Regions from separate parts of the Homo sapiens genome. Here region 2 is reported to be linked to region 1. Evidence: microRNA targets listed by miRTarBase, many of them from high-throughput screens and not tested one by one. Region 1 holds a microRNA gene; the other region holds the end of a gene's coding sequence.
The links. Region 1 holds the annotated microRNA hsa-miR-30c-5p (UGUAAACAUCCUACACUCUCAGC, at 1,776-1,798, opposite strand). A microRNA usually pairs through its seed, bases 2 to 8, with sites in the 3' UTR of a target mRNA and lowers its output. Matches are read on the target gene's strand: a 7mer-m8 pairs with bases 2 to 8, a 7mer-A1 pairs with bases 2 to 7 and ends in A, and an 8mer does both.

Region 1 (3,151 bases):
TAGAACATATCTAGAAGAATAATACTAAACAAAAACCAAAATTATATAGCTTTATATCAAAGTTTTCCATAGTCAATGAAAGAAATATTCTGGAATATTTAAATACACTTGGTTTTGGAGGACAAGGCAATAAAAAGATTGAATAAAATTAGATATTTTACATAGATACACAAGATGTTTATATTTTGACACATTATATATTTTCTTGTAAGTTCCATGAGAAAAAGGACTTTGTTTCTGTTCTCTGCTATATCCCCTGTGCCTAGAAGTTCACATAGTAGATGCTCAATAAATAATTCTTGAATGATGAATGAATTTCAGCATGTATTTCAATAAGCTTTGAAACACCTACATTCATGACTAAAAGTTAACCATAAATTTAGATCTGGAATATTTGAATGTCCCCCCTTTTAATTTAGGCAGAATAATAAAATGCTATGGCAAAGCATATGCATCATTCTCTGCTGCTTAGAGTTGCTTTTCCCCTTACCCATATTATCTGCCTCTCCTAGCAGAAAGCAAAATTTCAAACATCTATAACAATTATTTCTTTGAGAAGACTGTAGAGCATTGTTTCAAAGAGGGTTTTCTTAAGCCTGTAGGCAAACCTAAAAAGGTAAATGACTCAATCAAGCTGGCACTTCAACAGTGTCTACCACTGCTTCAAGGCCAGCCTGTTCAAATACTTCCCTGAAATCACATGCTAAAGTCATTGTATTTAAACTTTTTTTCTATAAACTCATATGAAACAATTACTCCTATTGTATTAGGCTCTACAGTCAGTGCGGAGGTAAAATTAAAAGCTCCTCTAATACTTCTAAAGTAGTAGAGTGTCTTTTAGTTTAAATGACTGATATATGCTGATATGCCAAGACTAGAGTAATTTTGTTCAGATTTGTTTAATTTTTAATAGAAGCATTAAGTTAATTATTTAACTTCTTAAGGGCTTGTTATATAAAAATATGCCTTATTTAAATATTCTCTTTAACAAGAAGGCTTATTTCATAATAATTTTAAATAAATCAGCAATGGACTCAAATTTCAGGTAAGTTACATTCTAGATTAGATGTTTAATAGACCTTTGATTTAAACGATTTACATGAAAGAGTTTTTCTGGTTAAGGCTGAACTTATGAGTTCGTTCTGTAGATTTTTCTTAAAATTAACTTCTTGCATCCCATCCCTTACCTCTACATTTTCCTTCCTCTCCCGTCCTCCAACAACAATTCTATTTTTTCCTGAAATGTGTAACTATATTCTAGCTTTAAAGAGCAGACCTTATTGTTTGCCATTACAATTCCTAAAGCATGGGGCTCCAAGGTGCCTTTGATCCCTGATAAAATAGCAAGTCCAAGGACACTAGAATTTTTGCTTCAAGAAAAGCAGACTTCAGTGTGGAATGCTCTCAGGTTAAAGGAGAAATGTTTAGCTTAACGTATAGGTAATGTGTTGCTTTTACAGATCAGACTGCAGCAACCCACAAAATGTAGCCTCATACAAGTTAACCAGAACTTTTGTCACTTGGGTATTTGGTAATCTTTTTTTTCTTTTTAAACTAAGTGAAACAGTTCAAATATAACTGATATTATAGATTATCTTACATTTCTTTGGATGACTTAGTCAATTCACCTTTTTTCCTTTTACAGTTGACCTCAGAAACAAACACGGGATAGGATCAATTCTAAGACATAGAAATATTCAAAATCCATTTCTCTTTAGTTGACTTCCAAGGCAGAAAGAGTAAACAGCCTTCTCCCAGCTTTCTTACTTTCCACAGCTGAGAGTGTAGGATGTTTACAGTATCTGTCGCTCAGTGCTCTCTAGGATGGGGTTGGCAGTCAGCAGCACAAGCCTCAGGAAACCCAGTACCATTTGAAGATACCATAATATGTCACAGGAAAAGATCAGAAAAGTATACTTGGGACTAAATTATGGCTCTTTTAGGAGTAGGGTTGGAAGGGTGGGTGGGGAGGCTATATGACACTTACTTAGTGCTGCCTGCTCAGTTCTTGTTTTCTTCCTGTTTTGCACATCCTAAGATATTCCTAAGGTCTCTAGCTTTGAGCTTGCACACTCACGGATTTGGTTAATTTTGGATTTTCAATATTCTATGCTTTCCCAAAAGGGTTTCAAAATATTCGCCAAACTCCTTCCTTAAACAGTACATAATCCCTTTCTGACTGTTGGGAGACATGAAATGCAGCTTCTCACTCTCTGGGCTATACAACTTTGTTTCAGCTCACTCCTGCACAGAACTGAGAATAATGGCTAAACAGAAGACCAACAGTTTAATTACTGAAAATTAGTTACCTTAATGATGGGATACACAGTAATAAATTTAATCAAATGAGCAAAAAGTAAATATGTTAGAATACAACTTTACATGCATAAAAATGGTATATTGCAAATTGCTAATATAATGCTAAAATTATTTTAAAAATTCATATTCGGACAGAAGTGAACCTACAATTAGAGGCATACACATGAATGGAGTCAGTTGCTTCCTAAAGTTATTTTCTAAGAATGACTTATTCAAATAGTTCTTGGACTTCATTTGCTAAACTGGTCTAAGGTACACAAAATACTTGGGCGAAGAAGAAAGTCATCATTACTATACATCTCAGAACAAACCTACCTGATAAGAGACTACACTGTAAACCCAGGTGGCATATAATTCCAAACTGTTACAGGATCTTACTCATTTCATTCATTCATTCATTCATTCAACAAACAATTGTGACTGCCTGCCATATATCAGCAATGTTTTAAATTCTAGGTGATGAGAAATGAAGGGTATCATCCCTACCTTCGAGAAGGACACAGCTTAATTTGCAAGACAGACACATACACCATTACTATAAGTGTTATGATGGGTCAAAAGACACTTCTGAGTTGGCTAATAGCCAGGCTGAGTCTTGAAGCCTGAATAAAATTAGCTAGGTGAAGATGGTGCTAATGGGAATTTGGAAGGGGTGGGCAGTGAAGAAGATAGTGTAGCTTAAAGTGTACCAGAAAGAACAGTCATCCAATAGAGAAAGAAAGACAAAGGTAATGTATGCTGAGGCCTTTAAGAATTCAGCAGAGGTGGAGTCAAAGATGCATGTGGGTGAAGGGTAAGGGGAGAGACACAAGGGAAAGATGGGAGTCCTTAT
Region 2 (3,000 bases), not on the chromosome of region 1:
CACAGTTAGGAGCACAGTGGGAACCAGTGACAAGTAGGGACTGGGGCCTAACTCCACGACCTGGCAGAGGGAGGTACGGAGTAGCTCGGAGACTGCTGTCCCAGTAGACAGCACAGGTAGTCGGCTTGATCCTTGCGCATGTAAACAGATACTGCTAAAGTGCTTGCGCCTAGACACAGCCATGTGCTCTGTGGTGGCCACGCCCCAGCCACACGCCCATGTGGGAACTGCTTCATGAGGCCTGTGGTGCACCCCCTTCATCACCACTGCCGTCCCCACCACCCGCCCATGCTACTCACATGGACAAGGGCAGCCTGGCAGGGCAGAGCAGAGCACAAGGCCTAAGGAGAGTGGGGGTTGGAACTGGATTCTGAAGGTGATGCAGGAGCCCCTACCTAACCCGTGAGGAACTGGAAGAACCAGGGACTTCAACCTGAAGCCAGCATCCAGGGAAGACTTTGGGGGAAACTGAGGTTCCCACCCCACCATAGCCAGGAAACATCAGAAGGGAGGTGGAGGCGCACCCAGGAACAGGAATCCCAGCCAATGCTAGGGGCTACTGAAAAAAACAGCCCAGCCACTGTAATATGGACTGGCCTCAGCTCTGGCCCCCAAGACTGCCCAGGGAGTAAGCCCACCCCCTCAGTGGGCTGGGGGCAGGGGCTGGCCCAGGCCTGAGCTGGGTGTGGCAGCAGCAGAAGGCCCCAGCCCTGGCACAGTGCCCACGGGGCCAAGGAGCTCCCTGAGTCAGCAGTCACTGACTCCACACCGACCCGCGTTCAGGGAAGAGGCGGGTCTCTGTGGCGTCATCTGGCTCACGCTACTCAGCTGGGGCGGACTGCAAGACTGGCACACCCCATGGGGCCGAGTCCTCTCCTTGGGCCTGGCCAAGGACATGGGGCTGAGTCTGGCCACAGTTAGCTGTCCCTTAATGTCCATGGGATCTTCGGTACCATCAAAAAAGTGACCTTGAAAAGGGGATGGACCGCTTGTTTGCTTTTACAAGTGACTGATTAATTAAAAAACATAAAAAAGGGTCTAACAACCTCTAGTATTCAACACTTGCAGTTTTAAAAAGATCAACTCAGACTAAACGCTAGCACAATCATGCATGCCCCGTGGTGCCGCGGCACCCCAGAGGCTCTCAGGGTCAGCAGGAAGTCCTTTCCTTGTCATGTCAAACCAAAACAGCGGCCCGCAGGTCGGGGGGCACAGGCTTCAGGGCTGCTCCACTCCAGGGAGGCTCCGGCCACTTTCTCCACAACCATTTGGCATTGCTTTCCCACTGCCTTCATTTTCTTGTTCAAATCGTCTTTAAAATTCTTCTTCAGTTAACTGTACAGTACCCCACTGGGGCTGGAGCCTGAGGCTAGAGCCACATATATATATATGCATATATATACATGTACAGCTTTCTTTTAAGAATGCATTCTCTCTTGCTGAGGGCAAGGGTGGACACCGCTGGCCTCCAGTCCCTCTGGTCACTGCCCGTCACTCATGGCCCAGATAGATCCAGGCCACTGCGGGCCAGAGGAGCCCTGCCACAGACCTCAAGGCCCAAGCAGAGTGCAGCAGAATTTTTTCCCCTAAACACAAAAACAGTCCCCAGATGTCCCACTGCTCTGGAGGGGCCAGGACACTGCTGAGATGCCACACTGGAAGCCGCTGGGGCAGGGACAGAGAGAGTGGAGAGAGAGGAGTGCTCAGGGGCCGCCCTCAGGGGCTCCAGGGTGGGGAGCTCAGCCTACCCTTGAAGACAGCTGCCAGGGCAGCCTGTGTAGGACGCGGAGGGGAATAAATAACGGGAACGTGCTCTCTGCGACCCGGGGCCCCTGGCCCAGTGGCTCCCAGAGGCACAGCCCTGAGGACGGAGAGGGGCTGCCCGGTCCGTCTGGAAGCCACCCAGGAGTCTGAGCAGCCTGGCCCACAGCCCCTCCATAGGAGGGAGCAGAGCCTCTCTGGGGCGAGGTGGATGTGGTGCTCCGGCCTCGGCCGCGCAGAGCACGCGGTGAATCTGAGGATGGCAGCGGTGCAGCGGGCATGGGTGCTGGAGGTGGGAGTCGGTGGCAACGGGCCCAGACCGACTTGAGCTCCTCTTGCCCGGCTACGGGCTTTTTGCCTCTTTCTCCAGCTGCCAACCGGGCCCCGGGACCCTCAGACTCTGCCGCCTGGGGGCAGCTTGGAAAGCTGGGAATGCTGACACCCCCAGCCTCTTGTCCTGGTCTCAAGGGGACAGCCCAAGCTGGCTACCCCTCCCCCTGGAGGGCCCTGGCCTCACCCCTCAGCCCCTCAGAGGTCAGCCCTTCTCCCATGAAGGCCACTGGGCAGCTCTTGCCAGGCAATGAAGGTCCTTGGCCAGCCTGAGCACCCAGTGCTGTCCCGGCCCCTGAGCAAGCAGCTGTGTGCGCAGCTGTGGTGTGGCAGGTACCATCACCTCCACACAGGAAGAGCCGGGACCCGACCGGGTGAGGCAGGGGAGGGAGGGCCGGGCAGTCGCTGCACTGCGGCGGCCCGAGCACCACCGGACACTCCACACGCATGCGGTGAGGGCTGTCCCGGTCCCTGCTCAGCTGTCCTCACGCTGCATCATGCTGGATGATCACAGCTGGGGCTCAGCTGCTCAGGGCCATCGTGTCCACCACCTGCTCCAGCTTGCTCCGCAGCCGCTGCCGCCGCGCCTGCTCATCCTTCTCCAGGGCTGCCAGGATCTGCAGGGCCAGGAGAACTGTCAGCATGCCGGGCCACCAGCCTCCATGCACTCAGCAGGCCCAGGGCAGATGCCTCCAGAGTAGGTGCCAGAGGTTCAACCCCATCTACCCCTGGCCAAAGGACCTTGGTTGTGAGCCTGGACCCTCCAGGACCCCAATATGGAGAATGAGCCCTGCCCCTGTCATCATCCTACTCTCACCCCCTAAAACAGCAGGCTCTGATCCCTTGGCTGCCTGGCCATGCTGCTGACATGTCCCCACCCAGTCCTCACACCCTGGGGTTTCTGTGCCC

Region 2: the mRNA of PLXNA1 is a reported target of hsa-miR-30c-5p. Seed matches in the 3' UTR shown: 8mer at 140-147.

Annotation. Positions count from the first base shown.
Region 1 is chr6:71,375,228-71,378,378 of GRCh38, forward strand. It overlaps MIR30C2 (microRNA 30c-2), which reads right to left and starts at 1,804; the gene lies at 1,733-1,804.
Region 2 is chr3:127,033,630-127,036,629 of GRCh38, reverse strand. It overlaps PLXNA1 (plexin A1), which reads right to left. Exons shown (of 32, transcript NM_032242.4): 32 at 1-2,708. The coding sequence ends at 2,613. Among named protein-coding and RNA genes, the nearest start is that of PLXNA1, 52 kb to the right of the region's middle.